Regions from separate parts of the Homo sapiens genome. Here all the other regions are linked to region 1. Evidence: fine-mapped expression QTL. A gene starts in region 1. Each other region holds a variant in brackets. All regions are shown on one strand. Distances are between the middles of the regions.

Evidence for each region.
Region 2: its variant is fine-mapped to the expression of HIKESHI in nasal epithelium (TOPMed, PIP 0.97).
Region 3: its variant is fine-mapped to the expression of HIKESHI in whole blood (TOPMed, PIP above 0.99).

The regions. Positions count from the first base shown.
Region 1 is chr11:86,297,633-86,305,332 of GRCh38, reverse strand. It overlaps HIKESHI (heat shock protein nuclear import factor hikeshi), which reads right to left and starts at 3,093. Exons shown (of 5, transcript NM_016401.4): 1 at 2,855-3,093. The coding sequence starts at 2,884.
Region 2 is chr11:86,358,376-86,366,075 of GRCh38, reverse strand. LOC105369421 (a long non-coding RNA gene) reads left to right here. Exons shown (of 5, transcript XR_007062826.1): 3 at 5,749-5,862. Among named protein-coding and RNA genes, the nearest start is that of CCDC81, 13 kb to the left of the region's middle. The variant T/G (reference allele first, on the strand shown) is at 3,983.
Region 3 is chr11:86,376,132-86,383,831 of GRCh38, reverse strand. The region is part of intron 1 of CCDC81 (coiled-coil domain containing 81); the gene reads right to left. All of the region lies in intron 2 of LOC105369421 (a long non-coding RNA gene), which reads left to right. Among named protein-coding and RNA genes, the nearest start is that of CCDC81, 5.1 kb to the right of the region's middle. The variant T/C (reference allele first, on the strand shown) is at 4,534.

The DNA.
Region 1 (7,700 bases):
CTAAGCTCTCACCCTCCAGCTTAAAGATAAAGGGGCCAGGCACAGTGGCTCATGCCTGTAATCCCAGCACTTTGGGAGGTCGAGGCAGTCAGCTGGCTTGAGCTCAGGAGTTCAAGACCAGCCAGGGCAACATGGCAAAATCCGATCTCTACAAAAACTACAAAAATTAGCCAGGGGTGGTGGCATGCGCCTTTGGTCCCAGCTACTCGGGAGGCTAAGACCAGATAATCACTTGAACCCAGGATGTCAAGGCTGCAGCAAGCCGAGGTCCCGCCACTGCACTACAGCCTGGATGACAGAGCATGACCCTGTCTCAAAAATAAATAAAAGAATCTCAGGTAATTAAAACAGGTAAGCAATCCAGAAGTAATTAGGCAATCCTCCTTATTCACAAATCCTGTATCTGAATTCACCTACTCACTAAAACTCACTTGTAATCCCAAATCAATGCTTGCTGCATTTCTGCAGTCATTCATGGACATACTCATATGAACAGTAGTAAAAAATGTGAGTTGTAGGCCTGGCACAGTGGCTCATGCCTGTAATCCCAGCACTTTGGGAGGCCAAGGCGGGTTGATCACCTGAGGTCAGGAGTTCCAGATCAGCCTGGCCAACATGGCGAAACGTAGTATCTACTAAAAATATAAAAATTAGCTGGGCATGGGGGCACATGCCTGTAGTCTCAGCTACTCAGGAGGCTGAGGCATGAGAATTGCTTGAACCTGGAGGCGGAGGTTGCGATGAGCAGAGATCACACCATTGCACTCCAGCCTGGCTGACAGAGTAAGACTCCGTCTCAAAAAAAAAAAAAAAAAAAAAAGTGAGTTGTGCAACTCACACACTGGCAGCTGAGGTAGAACATGCCATCTTGTTTCAGTCCTCGTAATATGAAAAAGTGTCCTTTTCACAGTCTCATCTATTTAAAGCATTTTTGTGATTTTTGTTGGTGATCGTGCTGTTTAAAATGACCAAGTTCAAGTGCTGGCTAGTCTTCCTAAGTGCAAGAAGGCTATGACATGCCTTACAGAGAAAATATGTGTGTTAGGTAAGTTTTCCCTCTATAATATCCTATCTACCGATACAAATAAACTTAGGAAAAATATACTGCTATGTAATTTCAACTATCTATTAGTTATAAAGTAGTATCAACTGGCTGCCCTAAATTAAGTCTCAAGATACAAAGGCAGTGTTCCTAAAGTCAAATTCTGATTCCCTCTTCAGAAGTATTCTGACCCACTTTAAAATCCTCCAGCTTTAGTATAAAGAATAAAACAAAGGAATAACACAAACCAAATGGCCTGTATTAGTATTAAATTCAATTTCACCAGTCTTTGGCATGCATATAACCTAAAAAGCATGGGAAATTATTATTTATGAGTCTTGAAATAACCACCAGGCAAAATAAATATTTCTTAAGTGTCAACTTTGTATAGGTACTGAACAGTCTGCAAATCTGTATCATCACACTCTAATTTTTGACATTAAGAAAAGGTGTATCTCTTTAAGAAAAAAAATCTTAAGAAATAAAAACTGGGTTCATAAGTTTAGATAAGTAGATTTTTCTTATAACAGAGTCGTGTAGTTAAGTTTTGAGATGCCACTAGGTCTATTTGTCCTTCACTTTGATGTGTCCTAATACTCCATAATTAAAGGACCAAGTATCCCCAATATATAGAGGCAGGTATTACCATAACTAAATTTCCTTCCAAATTAGTTGACAACGTGAGAGATACATGGATTCCAAATAGGCTTTTTATTCTTTAAGAAACACAATTTTAATGTCATTCATTAATAACACTCACTCGTCTGAGTCACACAATCATTCCAGGTTTGTCCTTTTTCCCTATTAAGAGCAGGGCAAAATTATCTCACCAGGATTATGAATTACCACCATCACCACAGGGGTCTCCCAGTCATTCAAGAGACAAACTTTATGAGGCTAGTCATCTCCAACTTATCTTTCTGGCTTCTTAGAACTGTATATGTACAGAATACAATACATTATCAAAACTTGATGGGAAAAAAAGACAATTCAGCAAAGGGACTGCAACATTTTAAAAAGCCAGGAGAAAAAAGAAGGAAAAATACTTCTAGGGGAAAGGAATCAGGCCTGAAAATTGATGTCTGTGTGGTTTCTAAGGAAACAAACAAGATTCACCTTCCAGATTATTCCTAAAGAATTCCAGGTGCTGTTCTCATTTACTCTAACAATTTGGCAAGGTAAGTTATCTATTTTGACCCATAAGGAAACACACTACTCGCATCCTTCTCTGGTTATCTCAGATACGGCTCACACGTTAAGTTTCAGCCAACTTCCAATTAAATTAAGCTTATTTTTACTCGGGTTCTTCCAAAGGGACCCAAAAGATATACATTCCCTGAGCACCTTAATCTTTGAAAAACAGTTTGCTATAGACCAAATTCAATCCCAAATTCACCTCTACCTCAAGTTAATAAAGAAGGTATTTATACTGGCGATTGAACTTAGTTCTGTAACTGCAAAATGTCAAAGATAAAGACCATCTCACGAGTTATGAGGATTAAGTTCAAAGTGCCAAATAAGCGCCACACATAAGGCTGAGTGACCAAAGGCGTGCATTGCACTTAGCCCAGTACTTGGTACAAAATGCACACTTAATAAATGCCAACTTATACTGTGACTACTATTCGAAAGAATCTGAATAGAGCTGGGCAAAGGAGAGCACCCAGCTTCCCACGCTCCATCCTCACATACCCACCCAAAATATAATAAGTGGGCTTCCCCGCATCCCTAGCGCCTGCGCACCCTCCCTGCCGTAGGGCTTCGCCCTCGGTATCCTGACCCCTTCCTGATATCACCCGGTCCCATCCTCACCAGCCTCCCCGCCACCAAGCAGCCAAACATGGCGACGGCAGCTCCGTTCAGCCGGCAGTGACCTGAAGCCGGCGACTAGGAGTCCTGGGGCTACTGCCCTAGTCGAGACTAAGAACCTTCCAGAATTTGCGGGAGGGTGTCTGCCCCTCCACTACATAGTGACTGGGCCAGCGGCAAGAATGCCTCTGCCCCCGCGAACTCTGACCTTCTCTTCCTAAGCAGCCCACTGCTCAGGCAACAAGTACTTCCGGGGCTTACACCCGGTTTTCCCCACTAAGGAAGAAAGGCGGGCCAGCGCCAGTACAAGACTACAAGTCCCAGAACAAGTCCCAGAGGGCACCGCGCCAGTTTCCGGGAAGGTAAGCCTGGAGGCTTTGCACACTGGGATCGGTAGTCCGGGTGTTTTATAGCCACAAAATCTGTGGATCCTTCATTTCCATGTACAATCCTGGGAAGAGATGCTTCTAACGTTTCTGTGACATCTGAGAGATTAACGGTGCACTTTTACAATAATCACGTCACTAGATCTTTACAAAAACCCTATGAGGTAAGTATTATAATCCAAATTTTATAGGAGTGATCAGCCTCAAATCTTTACACAGCAGTAAATGTTGGAGGCTGAATTCAAGTCCTAATCCAAATCCGGGTTTCTTTCTGCTACACAGTGTCTCAGAAGTATTAATCTTTAACCAATTGTTTTGTACTTGTCTACAATTTATAGTAGTTCTTTCCAGCTTCACTTAGTTCTCCCATTCATTTGCTGTACAATTGTGGACGAGTTGTAGATGTCTTTGTGCTTCAGTGCCCCTCCTTTGCAAAAGACAAATAATGAGCCTATTGCCTAGGGTTGCTGTGAGGATTAAATGAGCTAATATGTATAAAACACTTAAAACAGTGCTTGGCTGTGCTTAATTAGTGGGAGTTTTATTGTAAAAATGTCTATTTTTTTTCTATGTGGATCTGCAGAAAAGTTTCATAGGAAATACAAAACAATAGCCAAAAAAAAAAAAAAAAATACTGGCATTAAGTACCGATTGCCACCAATACTTATTCTCCCTTTCACAGCTCCAATTCCTTTTCTTCTTGAATAGGATAGTAAAGGGTCTCTGTCCAATTTGAAATATCTGAGCTTGGCCACCAGCCGTAAAGCAGGTCTGTCTTCCCAGTTCTCAGTTTATATATGGGGGATCAGTGTTTGGAACAGTCCTCTGGCCTCCACTGTGGATCCCTAAACTGATCACCTATCTTATCACCGATACTCCTTTGAGATAGCTGTGCCAAAGGTGAAGAGGTAGGAAAGGATCTACCAATGTTTCCAACTTACTATCTAAAAAGTCCTAGAACCTTCAGAATAAAAAGGCCATTCATATGAAGACCACTTCATAAATTAAGGCACCCACACTACCTGGGTTCAGAGCCCATCTCTGCCATTTATTAGTTACATAATCTCAGGCAAGTTAACCTAACACTCCCATACCTCCTTTTCCCCATCTTTAAAATGAAGTAATAGTAGTATCTACCTCATAAAGTTGTTTTGAGGGTTCTTACACGTAAAGTACTCAATAGTGGCCAGAATGTAGCTTACTCAATAAATGTTAATATTTAGCATTATTGCCTTTCCTAACTAATTTTCCATGTCTTCTTCATACCCACCTTGTGCACTAGCCATACTTTTGAATTCTCTGAGCAACTCCTACTTTTAAATTTGTATGTGCTTATGCAACTTGTTTTATCTCCCTGTAATATTCACTTGGTTATTTCTTACACATCCTCTCACTTTTCTTCACTAACCTTTCTATGACCCACCTGATAGTCATTTCTTCTCCTACCCAGCAATCTTATATTTAGTGGATTGAGAACTAGCTAGCTTAGAATTTTTTTTATAAATTACAGATGATGTTTATTAATTGTCTCAATCTCTGTTATGTGAGATATGAGCTTTTTCTCCATTTTGCTGGTCAACTGTCTTAGTTATAGATTGTACAAAGAGTTAGAGGCAGTGAGTACAGTATCATATCTCTAGAGTAGCCAGTATTCCAGCTACCAAACTATATTATTTGTACATACAGTAGTTCTTTGTAACTTCTGCGGGCAGAACTAGATACAGTGTGAGGAAGTGAAAAAATGTTTCAGGGAAAAAAATCTTTCCAATAATCAGAGCTCTCTGAAATAAGAATAGATAGTCATGGAATAGAGTGAATGCTCCTATTCACATTGATATTGTAACCAATGCTGAAATCCACTTACATTGTTGAGGAGACTTACGGAAAATTGGGGAAATTGGCTGAAAACCTCAGAGGTACTCCCCCCCATCTCAAACTATATGATTCTATGGAGTAAGAACCAGTTATAGTTTAATTGTGGCCAGGGTATCAGGGATTCTGAATCCTGGTGTTAGCTCTTCATTAATTAACCTAATGATGAGATCATTTATTTTATCATTTTGGCCATTATGTTTCTTCCAATTCTAGGTTGAATTCTGACTTGAAGAGAGCAAAAAAATATTTTTTCTCTTCTCTGAAAAATTTTTCTTTACAAAACAAGGAGAACAACAAATAGACACACAAACTCTGTCTTCCCTGAACTGGGAGATATCTGTAACCCCAAGTCACAACAGATATCAATGGAAAGTAGATAAAAGAAAGGCAAATGACTTAGCAGAGGCGTGGAAGATCAAACTCAGGTACTACAGAGAAAGATAAATATCAGAGAAGCTCAGGAACTGGAGATATCAGGGGCCACAGAATGCAAGGGTAAGACAGGTAGATTGCTTAAAATCAGTGTTAAGATGTTTATATCTGTTCCTCATCCACACCTTGCAAAAGGCCACTGGTATGAAATCTCTGTGGAAAAAAATTAAATCAGAGGCACCCTGGGTACTAGGAAACCATATACTGAAAAAAAGTGGTTGTAAATTAAGGCCACCATGTACAGATTCGGTCCTAAATAAGGACACCCAAATGAGAGAGGAGTCCTTGGTCACCAAGTCAAACATATCCCAGACTATGTCCACCCAAAGAGGGGTGGCTTTTTCTGAAGCATCCACGTGAGAGTGCTTTGTACTATATCATCCATGCAGAGATAGCTCTTTTTTACATCCCTCATCCATAGGGGAAAAGGGTCACGTTTTAAGAATTGATGGAAAAATCCAACACTCTTTTCATGATAAAAACAGTCAACAAACTAGGAATAGAAGAGAACTTCCTCAACCTGATGAAGAACATCTACAAAAACTCCGCAGCTAACCTCATACTTAATGGTGAAAGATCAGGAACAAGACAAAGGTGTCTTTTATAGCTGCTTGTACTCAACATTGCACTGGAAGTTCCAGCCAAGGCAATTAGGCAAGATAAATAAAACTGGAAATGAAAAAGTAAAACAATCTCTAGTCACAGATGACATGATCTTTTTATTTTTTATTTTTTTTGAGACTGAGACAGAGTCTCACTCTGTTGCCCAGTCTGGAGTGCAGTGGCGATCTCAGCTCACTGCAATCTCCACCTCCCAGGGTCAAGCGATTCTCCTGCCTTAGCCTCCCAAGTAGCTGGAACTACAGGCATGCACCACCATGCCTGGCTAATTTTTGTATTTTTTGGTAGAGATGGGGTTTCACCATGTTGGCAAGGCTGGTCTCGAACTCCTGACCTCAGGTGATCCACCCAACTCATCCTCCCAAAGTGCTAGGGTTACAGGTGTCAGCCAACACGCCTGGCCAACATGATCTTGTATATAGAAAATCCTAAGGGATCCACTAAAAACCTATTAGAACTAATAAACAATTTCAGCAAGATTGAAGGATACAAGGTCAATATACAAAAATAAATTGTGTTGCTATACACTTGCAGTGAACAATCCAAAAATGAAATTAAGAAGATAATTTCATTTAAAATTCTCATTTAACAAAAGAAGTATAAAGTATATACTCTGAAAACTACAAAAAATTGTTGTAAGAAATTGATCTGGCTTGGACATTTGTCTCCTCCAAATCTCATGCTGAAATGTGAACTTAATTGTTGGAGGTTGGCCTAGTGGGAGGTGTTTGGAGCATGGGGGCAGATCCCTCGTGAATGGCTTGGTGCTATCCTTGCAGTAATGAGTTCTCACTGTATTATTTCATTCAAGAGCTGATTGTTTAAAAAAATAAAAAATAAAGAGCCTGGCATCTCCCTTGCTCCCTCTCGCCATGTGATATGCCTGCTCCCCCTTCCGCTTCCGTCATGATTGTAAGCTTCCTGAGGCCCTTACCAGAAGCTGGACATATATTGCTGCCATGCTGGTACAGCCTGCAGAACTGAGTCAAAATAAACCTCTTTTCTTTATAAATTACCCAGCCTCAGGTACTTCTTTATAGCAATGCAAATGGAGTAACACAGAAATTAAAGGACATCTAAATAAATGGGAAAACGTCCCATATTCATGGGTCAGAAGATTTAATATTGTTTAGAAGGCTGTACTCCCCAAATTGATCTACAGATTCAATGCAATTACCATCAGACTCCTAGCTGACTTCTTTGTAGTAAGTGACAACCTGATTCTAAAACTCTTAAGCAAAGGATCCAGAATAGCCAAAACAATCTTGAAAAGAACAAACTAAGAATATCCATACTTCCTGATTTCAAAACTTGCTACAAAGAAACAGTCATCAAGACAGTATAGTATTTAAAAGGCGGGGCAGGGTGGCTCATGCCTGTAATCCTAGCACTTTGGGAGGCCGAGGCTGGCGGATCACTTAAGGCCAGGAGTTCAAGATAACACACTATGGTATTGGCATAAGGGTAGACATATAGATGATTAGATTCAAGAGTCCAGAAATAAAACCATATGTCTATGGTCAACTTATTTTCAA
Region 2 (7,700 bases), 61 kb before region 1:
CTAAAATTCTCTTTTTTGTTGTGTCTCTGCCTGGCTTTGGTATCAGGATGATGCTGGCCTCATAAAATGAGTTAGGGAGGATTCCCTCTTTTTCTATTGCTTGGAATAGTTTCAGAAGGAATGGTACCAGCTCCTCTTTGTACCTCTAGTAGAATTCGGCTATTAATCCATCTGGTCCCGGACTTTTTTTGGTTGGTAAGCTATTAATTATTGCCTCAATTTCAGAGCCTGTTATTGGTCTTTTCAGGGGTTCAACTTCTTCCTGGTTTAGTCTTGGGAGGGTGTATGTGGAAAATGACTAAGTTTGTGCTGACATAAACAAAGCAAATTACTTCCATATGTTTGTTTAAAAAAAATAACTTTCCTGCAAAGAAATGCCAGGTTTATATGGCTTTAATGCTAAATTCTTACAAATAATTCAAGAACAAATAATACTGGATTTACACAAACTATTCCAGACAATTAAAAAAGAAGAGACATGTCTGAACTCACTTTTTAAGACTGGCAAAACATTGATACCAAAATATGACAGTACAAGTAAGGAAATTTATAGTCTAGAATCTCTCTTGAACATAGATATAAAAATCGTAACAAAATATCGATAAATTGGCAGGGTGTAGTGGCTTATGCTTGTAATCCCAGCACTTTGGGAAGTCAAAAGTGAGAGGATTACTTGAGCCCATGAGTTTGAGACCAGCCTGGGCAACATAGTGAGATCCTGTCTCTAAAAAATGTGTTTACATTGGTGGCATGCATCTGTAGGCCCAGCTACTCAGGAGGCTGATGTGGGAGGATCAGTTGAGCCCAGGAGTATGAGGTTACAGTGAGCTATGATCACACCACTGCACTCCAGCCTGGGTGACAGAGCAAGACCCTGTCTCAAAACAAAACAAAACAAAACAAAAATCAATAAATGGGATCCAGGAATATAAAAAAATAATAACATACCATAACAAAGAAGGATGTACTCCAGGAATAAAAGGTTGATTTAACATTTAAAAATTCTGTCATTATAATTCACCACATTAACAGAATAATATGGGAAGAAGGGGCAGAATAAAATCATCTTAATAGGTGAAGAAAATATATTTGATAAAACTGAACATGCATTGATGATTTTAGAAAAAAATCCTCAACAAAGGAGAAATTGAATAAAACATCCTTAATCTCAAAGGGTTATCTAGTAATAAAACCCCGTAGCTGTGTCATTATCAATGGTTAACATTTTCTCCCCAGAGTCAAGAATAAGATGGGGATCTTTACTACCACAGCTGTTATTCATCATTATGCTGTAGGCCCAAGAGAGTTCTACAAGACAAGAAAGAGAAATAGAAGGTATAAAGATCAAAAACAAAAAGTAAAACTGTCTTCATTTATGTATTACATGATTGTGAAGACAGAAAATCTGAAACTATACAAACTATTAGAATTAATTTAGCAAGCTCTCTGGATACGAAGTCAGCACATGAAAACCAAGTATATTTCTATATACTATCAAGAAATGATCAGAAAATGAAATATTCTAAAATGTAATTTATAGTAACATTAAAAAATCAAATATTTAGGAACAAATTTAAGAAGAGTTCCACAAGGCTAATAGTGAAAACTACAAAATATTCCTGAGAGAAATTAAAAGTGACCTAAATAAATGAAGAGCTATATCATGTGCATGAATCAAAAGACTCAAAATTGATAAGATGTCAATTTCCCCCAATTTGATAAGTAGATTCAATGCAAACCCAACCTATAAAAACCCACATAAAATATTTGGTCGACATCAACAGGATAAATCTTAAATTATATGGAAATGCAAAGAACCTAAAATAGCCAAGAATAATCTTTCAGAAGAATAAAGTTGAAAACTTTACTATCAGATTTCGAGACTAACTATAAAGCGGCAGTAATTAAGACAAGGTGGTATTGGTGCAAGGAGAGGCAAATAGGCCAATGTAACAAAACAGAGTCCAGAAATACCCTCTACATATACATCATTTAGTTTATAACAAAGGTGTTACTACAATTCAATGGGGAAATGATAGTGTTTTTATTAAATGGTACTTCAACAACTGTATATCCATATGGGAAAGAAAATAAACTCTAACTCACAACAAATCCAAAACTTAATTCAAGGTGGATCATATTCTCTAATGTGAAATCTGAAACAGAAAGCTTTAGAAGAAAACAGAATAACTTCATAACTTTGGGGTAGACAATGATTTCTTAAACATGACAGAAAAAGCTCTAACCTTAAGAGACAAAATTGATAAATTTGACTTCATTAAAATTGAGAACCTCTATTATCAAAATACATTAGCAGGAAATTGAATAGGCAATTACAAAGTAGGAGAATATATTTGCAATACTTATATCTGTTAAAGGATTATATACATAAATAACTCTACGGATCAATAAGAAAGCTTTTTAAATGGGCAAAACACTTGAACAGGCACTCTTCAGAAAAGAAAGATAAACAAACATCTACCTTATGATGCAGCAATTCTGTTCCTAATTATATACCCCCTAAAATAACATATGAAGTACATATGTCTGTAAAAACTTTTACAACAATATTTAAAGCAGCTTTATACTTAATAACCAAAACTTGGCAACAGCCTAAACATCCACTAGCAGGTGAATGTATAAACAAATTGTTATTTATTCATACAATGGAATATAACACAACAATAAAAAAATAAACTACCACTGATATACAGAACATAGATAAATCTCCAAAATATTATGGTGAGCAAAAGAAGAGAGACATAAGAGTACAAACTGTATGACTGCATTTATGTGAAGCTTAAGACCCAGAAACTAACCTATTTGATAGAAGTCAGAATATTTATCTCTGCAAAGTAGAGTATTGACTGGGAGTTACTACAAGAGAGCTTCCTTGGAGGCTAAAAAATGTTCTGTATCTTGATATGATTGGTGGTTACAAAAGTGTATGCATTTGTAAAAATACATACATACTTAAGATTTATTTATTTTACTGTGTGTAAATTAAACTCGAATTTTAAGAGTATAGAGTGGCAGTTTACATACTCTCTCTCTCTCTCTCTCTCTCTCTCTCTCTCTATATATATATATATATATATATTTTTTTTTTTTTTTTTTTTTTTTTTTTTTTTTCTAGACAGAGTCTCGCTCTGTCACCCAGGCTGGAGTACAGTGGCACGATCTCGGCTCACTGCAAGCTACGCCTCCCGGGTTCACACCATTCTCCTGCCTCAGCCTCCCAAGTAGCTGGGACCACAGGCGCCCGCTACCACGCCCGGCTAAGTTTTTGTATTTTTTTTAGTAGAGATGGGGTTTCACCGAGTTAGCGAGCATGGTCTCACTCTCCTGACCTTGTGATCCGCCCGCCTCGGCTTCCCAGAGTGCTGGGATTACAGGCGTGAGCCACCGCGTCTGGCGCAGTTTACATACTATTTGGCACATTCCATGCACAGGCTTTGTGCAGCATGCTCTTTGGTATCAGGATATTCAAAATGTAAACCTTCTTAATCCCATCTAGGGACAAAATATAGCATAGTGGCTAAGAGTTTGGGTCTAAGAGTCAATTATTCTTAACAAAAATTTGTTGAGCTCCTTATTATGTGCCAGGCTCTGGTCTGGGTAGTGTGGTAATAAGCAGCAAACACAACCAAGAGCTTGTCCTAACAGAGATCATAGTCTAGGAGGAGATACAGACAATACAAATATAAATAATATAATAATGTTACAAAGAAAAATAAGGCAGGACAATTGGATGCACAGTGAGGTGTCTATTTCAGATGGATTAATGTAGCTTCTCTAAGATTACATTTGAGCAGAGACCTGAATGACGTGAAGAAGCCAGCCATGAGAATCTTTAGTGGAAAACTAAACCCTAGGCCTTTAATTTTGCTATTCTGGAAACCCTGAGCAGGCTATTCGATTTCTCTGTGTCTCTGTTTCACCATCCATAAAATGTTTATTATTTCCAGATGGTATTAAGGAT[T/G]AAGTGAGATATATGTAAAGTGCCAACACAGTATCTGACATATCATAAGGATACAATATATAATTATTGTGTAAATCATGGAATAAAATGCAAACAGAATGCATCAGTGTTATAGGGTAGGAGCTTTTGCTTATTCTTTTTTTTTGGTTTTTTTTTTTTTTTTTTTTTTGAGATGGAGTCTCACCGTGTTGCCCAGGCTGGAGTGCAGTGGCACAAACTTGGCTCCCTGCAACCTTCATCTCCTGGGTTCAAGCCATTCCCCTGCCTCAGCCTCCCGAGTAGCTGAGATTACAGGCACCTGCCATCACAGCCTGCTAATTTTTGTATTTTTAGTAGAGACTGGGTTTCACCATGTTGGCCAGGTTGGTCTCAGACTCCTGACCTCACATGATCCACCCGCCTCGGCCTCCCAAAGCGCTGAGATTACAGGCATGAGCCCCCGTGCCTGGACACTTTTGCTTATTCTTCTGTATAAATAGTGTAAGTGTTCCATAAGCATCTGAGGTTCAGTGTATTTAATGTAATACCAGTTTTGCAATGCATCAGTTTCAATACACCTCTAGCACAGAAAAGGACAAGAAAATGGGGAAGCTAAAGAGCAAGGACTGGCTAAGGAAAACTGAGTATTCTGAGGGATAGAATCATAGTTGTTACCCTAAACAGATGGCCCGCTTTTCCAAGGTCAGGTCATATGATGCAGAATTGAGACAATCCCAATAATAAGCTAAACAATTGAATAACCATAGTTAAATCCAAATCTGTTTGTACATTTTTCACACCTTTGTTCATTCTATTTCCTCCACCTGAAATACTGTCCATTCCCAGCCTACAACCTGTGATTCCTAGAAGGCAATGTGCTTTCTTAAGCCTCTCTACTTCTGGTGGTTCTTTCTTAAATTGGAATTCCCCTCCCAATCTCTATCCTGTCCTTGGGTGCAAGCCTCAACTGTGGTTAAGGACGCCCTCCCCTGCCTATCTGTATAGCTAGGTTAGGCGTCCCTCATCTGGGCTTGCATTTCCCCAATATTTCTTGAATCACTGTTAAGTAAAAGAGCTTCCTAAATATGCAAGTGTTTGGGAATGTCCTCAGGATCCTTGTCCTCCATTCTATACATAAAGCACCATCTGGTGGTGAAAGAAGATGACTATACTTCTAGGTCACCAAGATGTGTTTTCTGTTTTCTGAGCTTTCAGAGAGCTTTTAAAATCATGTTAGAGGAAAAAAGCCACACTGACTTGCATAGAGATGTACCTATTGCCAAAGAACAGTTTTTCTTGAGTGAATGTTTTCTGCTTTCTTGCTCACTTCCATTTTCTACCACCCTTCTCCCTGTTTCCTTCCATCCTTATTTCTCAATTTCTTTCTCCTACATTTCAACTGGCCCACTGAAAACACAGTTCTGGCCAGGCACAGTGGCTCACGCCTGTAATCCCAGCACTTCGGGAGGCTGAGGCAGGTGGATAACTTGAAGTCAGGAGTTTGAGTCCAGCCTGGCCAGCATGGTGAAACCCTGTCTCTACTAAAACTACAAAAATTAGCCTGGCGTGGTGGCGTGTGCCTGTAGTCCCAGCTACTTGGGAGGCTAAGGCAGGAGAATGGCTTGAACCCAGGAGGCGGAGGTTGTGGTGAGCCGAGATCGTGCCATTGCACTCCAGCCTGGGTGACAGAGCTAGATTCCACCTCAAAAGAAAAAAACAGTTCTGGTTGGCATTTGTTTTGTTTTGGCTGCCCTAAGAGCCTCCACATTTCCTTTTGGAATTCACAGATCTACATTGTGTGTAATCTTAGTGGGGCTGCCATTCCTGGTGACTACATTCCATTACCAAAGCCGAAGGAAACAGATCCTTGCCCTCCTTGACTCTGCAGGACCAGGGGCCAGGTATGTGACCCAATATCAGTCATCAGATGCTCTTTCTGGGGCTCAGACTGTTGAGCTGTTGACAGGCAGACAGCAGGAAAATGTGGAAGTTATTTCCACAGGGATGGTATGCACTTTTCACTATCTTGCTTTAAGAAAATTGCCTGGGTTCCTAATGGCCAATCCCCCAGATCCCTCTTGATTCCTGCCCATTTCCAGGTCTGATTGTCCTAGCTCCCATCACTCTGAGCATCCCAACAGTCTTCCAATAATTTCCTTCTGCTTCAGTTAGTCCAAATCAATATCTGTGGCCTTGTCTGCTTACAAGTTTATAAAACCACTAAATATCCAACTAGTGTGGTGGCATAAAAGGAGACTATCCACCCCTCCACCCCATTATCAGAGAATAAACTTGAGGATTAAAGAGAAACATTTAAATCCTAGCTTTAGTTAACCAGGTTGCTTAAGTAGAGCCATGTGCCGTTAATGTGAGGGTCCTTTGAAATGGAAACCAGAAAAAGGAAAGGACAAATGTCAATAGGAAGATTAGATGTTTCTAATGTAGATTAGATTGCAGAGTGATGGAACGAAAATTAATCCTCAATTAATCCTCATAATGGCACATTGATTTGTGGTACTTTAGGGGGAAACCAGCTGCAGCTGGAAAGCACTCAGTGGACTCCCCCTGTTCTTCAGTCTTTACAGAATCTCTCTCCCTGAAGAGACAAATGGAGACAAAAAAGCAGAAAGAATACATGTGTACATCCAGTGGCTATATTAAGCAAGAAAATCTATGAAATGCAAAAGAAACTAGGGGCTGAAACTTTATTCGGAGGGCTAAAGGGTGGTTTGTGTAAAAGAAACGGAGAATTGCTCCTGAGATAGCCTGTCATCTGATGGCTTATGAGGTGAGGTTCTGCCTTCCTCTTGCTTAGAGGTGGGGAGAGACTAGACCAAAAGCTGAATGCCTGATCTCTGCCTATGGACTCCAAGTGACTCAGGAATGTTCACTTGACTCTTTAGTAAAGAACAGCTTGAAGCTCTATAAAGGTCTAGTTTGTACACAGAGAAAACAACCTATTTGGATCAGGGAAGCAGAACCCCACTCCATATGGCTGCTGACTGGCCTCCCCCTCACTGTGGCTCACTATAGAGGAGAAGTGTCAGTAGCTGGAGAGATTGTAAGGCTGATTCCCTTTCTGACTCCCTGGGATATCCCTTTCTCAGAAATACAGAGAAACTGTCAACGAAAGAGTTGACACTAGAAAATAAGTAGGGCATACCCAAGGGCATACTCAGTCACTGTGTCAGAGGCGTTTGAACCAGAGTGACTCCATTTTGAGTGAGGGCTAGGAAAATAAGACTGGGACTTGCTGGGCTGCATTCTCAGAAAATGAGGCATTCCTAGCCTCTAAATGTTTACGGTTAAGGGAACAAATTAATAATGTTTCCTAAACAGACCCAGACTTGGGAGTGTCCAGATATCCTGATATCTGGAGAAGAAAGGCATTCCTGATTTTGCTTTAAAGATAATAGTATCAATTCTTGCAAAATATAGTAATTAAGAAAATTAATCCTTTATCACAAACCCTTGTAGCAGAGCACATCTCCCCGTATATACAAGCATTGTACCTAGGGTGGACGCATTCCTCTTCTGACTTTCAGGAACGTCCTACTCTTATCAATGGAGTAGCTGTTCTTTCACCACTTTATTTTCTTAATAAACTTGCTTTTACTTTGCACTGTGGACTCGCCCTGAATTCTTTCTTGCATGATATCCAAGAACCCTCTCTTGGGGTCTGGATTGGGACCCCTCTCCTGTAACAACTGGTCCTCACTTCAATGCTTTATTGGACTGC
Region 3 (7,700 bases), 78 kb before region 1:
ATTTGCCTTAGGAGGCTTTAGGCCCCTGCAATCCAATCGGAATAGATTTGGAAAGCTTACAGACTGTAATTTCTAAATTTGACGTTTTCTGACATCCCAAAGAGTCAGAGAGGATATCATTAAATCTCAAAATGAAAAATATCAAGTCTAAAAAGCAAATTGAAGGATATACTACTTTCATATTTTAAGGGAAGCCAGGGTTCTTACTTATTTCAATCAAACACTGAAATGCCAAGAATCACTCTTATAAAGAACTAATCCCTAGACATATACTCTATATTCAGTTCAACCTTCATTTGGCTTCAAATTCTTAACATTCCATGCGCTCAAAACCATATGTTTAAACACCGTGCCAAGTAACAGGATACTGTATCTTACATATGATCATTATTTAAAAATCCTACATGCCTGTTCTGTAAATTATACAATACTATATGCTTGAAAAAGTCATTAATGTCAAAAAACAGATATGTTTCCTGATGTTATAAAACTTATCTTCTAAAATTAAAATACTGATATATGGAATAGTATAGCAGAATAGTAAAGGATGATTTGAACAAAGAAACATATTCCCAGAGCATAATGCAATGGAAAGAGCAGTGTGCTACGTGGAAGACCCACAGCCTTCCTGCTTCCATGGACTCAACTTTTACCCAGTTCACATCTGTAAAATGATGACAGGGCCTTCTAAGAACTATAATTACATAATATTAAACTTTGCTAAAACATACAGAAGCAGCAGGAATATACAATGATGAATATATACACTGATGAAAGTTAATTTATGTGTTTTGCTCAGTTTGAAGTTTATCTTCATCCTTGTTGCAATAGATAATTTGTGAAAGGTAATAAATAGTAGTTTGACTTTCACTTCAGCTCTTGCTGAAGTCACCAATGGTCTCTTTGTCAATACATTCAATAAACGTATTTAATTCTGAGCCCTCAGCCATGTCTGACACTATTGATCACTCCCTCCCCGTTTAAGCACCTCTCCTTTTGGCTTTTATACTACTACTCTCATTTGGGTTTTCTCCTAACTGTCTGGCCATTTCTTCAGTCTCCCTTGCAGGCTTATCCTCCTCCACCCAACCATTAAATGGTAGGGTTTTTCAAGGTACAGTCCTAGGTTGCTTCTCTTTTCACTCTATACTCTCCACTTCAGCAGTCACACCCACACTCAGGATGATTCCCAAATGTTTATTTACAGACCCAGACTCCTTGCCACCCCCTCTTTGAGATTCTGGACCCGTTTATCCAACTGCCTGCTTATATATCACAAAAAGGCCCTTCAACTTGCCCAAAACCGCAATCTTTCTTCTCTTAAATCTTGTCTTTTATCCAGGATTTCGGTCTCAGTGAATGGCACCACTATCTATTCAGTTATATGAGCCAGGAACTCAGAAGTCATCCTTGAGACTTCTCTTATCCCTCACCCCTAACATCCAGTCCATCACCATAATCTGTAGATTTTACCTCCAAGTTGCCCCTCATTCATTGCATTCCTCTGCATTTCTACTATTACCAGTTTTAGACCAAGCTACCATTTGTTCTCACCAAGACTATTGCTATAGGTATTCTTGACCCTCCTATTCATTCCCCACATGGCAACCAGAGTAATCTTTTCCAAATATAAACTGATCATATAATTCAACTTCTCCTTGACCTCCAGCTCAAAACACTTAATGGCTTCCCATCAGGCTTAACATAAAGGTCAACATCCTTAATATGACTTACAAGGCCCTGTATTACTTGACCCCTTCCTTTCTCTCTAGCCTACTTTAGAATACACTGCCTCCCCACATCTACAGAGCAGCCAGTCAACTGTCTTTCAGTTGCTCCATCACATCATACTCTCACCATAAGTTTTTGCCCCTGTCATTCCCTTTGCCAAAATCATTTTCAACTCACTTCCACTCTCTACCTCTCTGATCCATTTCATCTACTTAATTCCAACTCATTCTTCACAACTCAGCTCAAATTATCCCTTCTTTAGCCATTCTTGGCACACACCCCCATCCTTACTCTCTATTAAATGTTCTCATTTGACTTCCATTTCTTGGTGCTGTATGTAAGGAAGTCACCACTCCATCCTAACAACTAAAAAGTTGACCAGACAGAAAAATCAACAACTCTTCTTGGGTCCATAAGATGAGGGAGGACACAGGACAAACTGCTGCCCCTAAAATTGGAGAGACAGAAAGGCAAATACCAGGAGGAATGGCTTCCTGAAACGGACTCACATGCAGAAACAGCATCAAGAACCAATGCTGGGTAAGAAAACTCAAAGTGTAATTGACAAATTTCTGGAGGCTCAGTGTGGACAACACCAAGAGTTAAAACCTCCAGGGGAACCCAGTCATGGAGGGAGGGTCCCCACATATTTTAAGGTTTACTTCCCAGAGCTCAACCAGATTCCCACAGCCAAATATCCAGGTAAATATAAGAGAAAAATCTCCTTGTGCTTCAGGTGGGAGGAAGAAAAAAATACCATTTTTAAATATGCCAGAGTACTCTGTTGTCCTTAATGACCTGCCCTCAGAAGAAACTAGTTCACCAGAGCCTAACCTGCTGGGATATTATCAGAGCCTAACTGACCTGAGAGAAGGAAAATGACCAACTCCAGTCCACTTTAGCCATTCTGTCCCACCTAAGGAGAAAGGAAAAATCTGAGAAACATTTGTAAAGTTCACAGTCCAGAGGCACAGGCTCACTAAAAGACTGAGACCTGATCATAGGACTATAGAATGCTTTCCCACCCCCCACACTCTACCCCTACATTACTAAAGGCCTATTTATAGCAGTTACTTTTACCCAGTACATCACTTCCAGCTATCAAGAAAAAATTACAAGGCATACTAAAAGGCAAAACATACAATATGAAGAGACAGAGCAACCATCAGAGCCAGACATGGCAGGGATGTTGGAACTATCACACTGGCAATTTAAAACAACTATGGCTAATATGCTAAGGGCTCTAACGGATATAGTAGACAGCATGCAAGAACAGATGGGCTACATAAGCAGAGAGATTGAAATCCTAAGAAAGAACCAAAAATAAATGCTAGCAACTAAAAACACTGTAACAGAAATGAAGAATGCCTTTGATAGGCTTACTAGTGGACTGGACATGACTTAGTAAAAAATCTCTGAGCTTGAAGATGTGACAAGGAAACTTCAAAAGGAAAGCGAACAAAGACTGGAAAAAAAAAACCCAGAATATCCAAGGATTGTGAGGCAACTACAGAAGGTGTGTACCCATAATGGGAATACCAGGAGAAGAGGGAGAAATATTAGAGGAAATGCTTGAAACAATTACTCAGAATTTCCCTCTAATGTCAGACATGAAACCACAGATCCAGGAAGCTCAAATAACACCAAGCTGGATAAATACCCAAAAAAAGATACCTAGGAATATCATTTTCAAAGTACAGAAAATCAGAGCTAAAAACAAATCCTGAAAGAAGCCAGGCAGAGAGAGGGAAAGGAACACCTCATCTATAGAGAAACAAAGATGAGAATTATATTGAACTACTTCTCAGAAACCAAGCAAAAAGAGAGTACCATAAGACATTTCAAGTGTTGAGAAAAAGAAAACACCAACCTAAAATTCTGCATCCTGTAAAATTATTTTTCAAAAGCAAAGGAGAAATTATTTTTCAGACAAACAAAAATTAAGGGAATTAATTGCCAGTAAACCTGCTTTTCAAGAAATGTTAAAAGATGTTCCTCAGAAAAAAGGAAAATGATGTAGGTCAGAAACTTGGATCTGCATTTAAAAAAAAAAAAAAAGGGAAGACCATCGAAGAAGGAATAAGTGAAGGTAAAATAAAAACTTTTTTTTTCTTTGAGACAGGGTCTCATTTTGTTGCCCAGCCTGGAGTGCAACGGTGCAGTCTTGGCTCACTGCAACCTCCACCTGCTAGGCTCTCAAGCAGCCCTCCCACTTCAGCCTCCTGAGTAGCTGGGACTACAGTCGTGTGCCACCATGTCCATCTAATTTTTTTGGTTTTAATTTTTTGTACAGACAAGGTCTCACTATATTGCCCATGCTGATCCTGGACTCCTGGACTCCAGCGATTCTCCCACCTTGGCATCCTAAAGTGCTGGGATTACAAGCATGAGCCACTGCACCTGGCCTATTTTTATTATTCTTAGCTGACCTAACAGATAGCAGTTTGTCTAGTAATAGCAATAATGTATTCAATTATGTATGCTTATGCATATATCATATATATTTACATTTATATATAAGTGAAATGAAATGAATGACAGCAATGATACAAGGGATGGGAGGAAGGAATTAAGATTTTGTTATTATAAAACAATCACACTACCTGTGAAGTGGTACAGTGTTATTTGGAAGTGGACTTGAATTGACTGTAAATATATATTGTAATCTAAGGCAACTACTAAAATTTTTTTTAAAAGTATAACTGGGCCTGGCACGGTGGCTCACACCTGTAATCCCAGCACTTTGGGAGGCTGGGGTAGGCGGATCACAAGGTCAGGAGATCAAGACCATCCTGGCTAACA[T/C]GGTGAAACCCCACCTCTACTAAAAATACAAAAAATTAGCCAGGCATGGTGGCGGGTGCCTGTGGTCCTAGCTACTGGGGAGGCTGAGGCAGGAGAATGGCATGAACCCAGGAGGCGGAGCTTGCAGTGAGCCAAGATCACACCACTGCACTCCAGCCTGGGTGACACAGCAAGACTATGTCTCAAAAAAAAAAAAGTATAACTGATATGCTGAAAAAGGAGAAAATGGAATCGTAAAATGCTCAGTGGAAAATAAAGATGGGTACAAAAAACAAGGGCAAAAAGTAGAAAACAATAACAAATATGGTAGGTATTAATCTAGCTATATCAGTAATCACTTTGAACATAGGCTAAGTGTACCAATTAAAAGACAAAGATTGCTGGAGTGGACCAAAAAACAAAACCCCACTATATCTTGTCTAAAAGAAACCCAATCTAAATCTAAAAACATATAGATTAAAAGTAGATGGATGGAGGAAAATACAGCATGATAATACTTATCAAAAGAAAGTAGGGGTAGCTATATTAATTTTAGAACAGACTTCAAATCAAGGAGAGTTGTCAGAAATAAAGAGCATTACATAATAATAGAGGGGTCAATCTTTCAAGAAGACCTAAGAATTTTTAATATGTATGCACCTAAAAATAGTATGTCAAATTACATTAAGCAAAAACTAGTAGAACTGCAAGAAGAGATAAATGAATCCATTATCATACTTGAAGACTTCAGTACTCACCTATCAGAAATGAACAGATCCAGCTGGCAGAAAATTAGTAAAGGCATAGTTGAACTCAACAGCACCATCAATCAAATGGATATAGTTGATATCTACAGACTAGTTCATCCAACAGCAGTAGAATGCACATTCTTCTCAAGCTCACATGGAACATTCACCAAGACAGACCATGTTCTGGGCCATAAAACACACCTTAACAAATAGAAAAGGATAGAAATCATACAATGCCTGCTGTCAGATTACAATGGGATTAAAGTAGAAATGAATAAGAGAAAGATAAGTGGAAAATCCCAAAATACATGGGGACTAAATAATATGCATCTAGATAACACATGGGACAAGTCAGAGGACTGTCACTACCCAACTTCAAGATTTACAATAAAGCTGAGTCATCAAGACAGTGTGTATTGACAAAAGAACAGACAAATAGATTAAAAGGACACAAAAGAGAGCCCAGGAATAGACCCATATAAATACAGTCAACTTATCTTTGACAAAGAGGCAAAGGCAATACAATGGAGCAGATAGTCTTTTAAACAAACATTGCTAGAACAACTGGACATCCACATGCAAAAAAAAAAAAAAAAAAAAAAGAACCTAGGCACAGACCTTACACCTTTCACAAAAATTAACTTAAAATGGATCATAGACCTAAATATGAAGTGCAAAACCACAGAACTCCTAGAAGATAACATAGGACAAAACTTAGATGATCTTGGGTATAGCAATGACTTTTTAGATAAAACACCAAAGGCATAATCCAAGCAAGAAATAATAAGATGGACTTCATTAAAATTTAAAACTTCTGCTCTGTGAAAAACAATGTCAAGAGAATGAGAAGACAAGCCACAGACTGGGAAAAAATATTTGCAAAAGACACTGTCATGCAAAATATACAAATAACTCTTAAAAACACAAAGAAAAGAAAAACTCAATTTAAAAATGAGCCAAAGCCCTTTATATATATCTCATCAAAAAATGACAAGCATATTAAAAGGTGCTCCCCATTATTTATCATCAGGAAAATGCAAAATAAAACAATGAGATACCAATACACCATCTATTAGAATGACCAAAATCTAAAATACTGACAACAACAAATGCTGACAATAACATGGAGTGACAAGAATTCTCATTCATCGCTCTTGGGAATGCAACATAGTACAGCCCCTTTGGAAGACAGTCTGGCAGTTTCTCACAAAACTAAACATCCTCTTACCATACAATCTAGCGATTATGTCCCTGGGTATTTACCCAAGTGAATTGAAAACTTATATCCAGTTTTTTAAAACCTGCACACAGATATTTAAAACAGCTTTATTCATAATTGCCAAAACTTGGAAGCAACCAAGACATTTTTCAGTGGGTGGACAGATTAAAAAAAAAAAACCTGTGGTACATCTAGATAATGGAATATTATTCAGAACTAAAAAGAAATGAGCTATCAAGCCACAAAAAGACATGGAGGAATATTAAATGCATATTGCTAAGTGAAAGAAGCCAATCTGAAAAGGCTTAAACTATATGATTCCAACTATATTACATTCTGGAACTGGCAAAACTATGAAGACCGTGGAAAGATCAGTGGTTTCCAGATTTTGGGATTAGGGGTAGGGGTGAATAGGCAGAACAAAGGGGAGTGAAATACTCTATATGACTATAATGATAGATACATGTCATTTTACATTTGTCCAAACTCATAAAATGTACAACACCAAGAAAGAACTCTAATGTAAACTATGAAACTTGGGTGATTTTGATGTGTCAATGTAGGTTCAATTGTAACACATGTACCACTCCGGTGAGGGATGTTGACAATGGGAGAGTCTATCCAAGTGTAGGATTAGACAGTATGTGGGACATCTCTGTCTGATATGGTTAGGCTTTGTTTCCCCACCCAAATCTCATCTTGAATTGTAATCCCTAGGTGTTGAGGGAGAGGCCTGGTGGGAGGGGATTGGATCCTGGGAGCAGTTTCCCCCATGCTGTTCTCATGATGGTGAGGGATTTCTCACAAGATCTGAGAGTTTTATAAATGGCAGTTTCCCCTGGTCCCCCGGGCTTCTCTCTCTCTCTCTCTCCTGCCGTCATGTAAGACATGCCTGCTTCCCCTTCTGCCATGATTTTAAGTTTCCTGAGGGCTCCCCCAGCCATGAAGAACTGTGAGTCAATTAAACCTCTTTCCTTTATAATGACCCAGTCTGGGATAGTATCTTCATAGCAGTGTACAAATAAACTAATATATTGTCCCTCCTTCTTAATTTACTGTGAATCTACAACTACCCTAAAAAATCATCTTTAAAAAAAGTTCTTACTGTACCATTTACCTCCTCCCTGGTATCATTTACCTAAATTGTAAATTTGCATTGATTTGTGTGATTATTTGATTAATGTGCATCTTCCCCACTAAACAGTAAATTCCAAGATGTT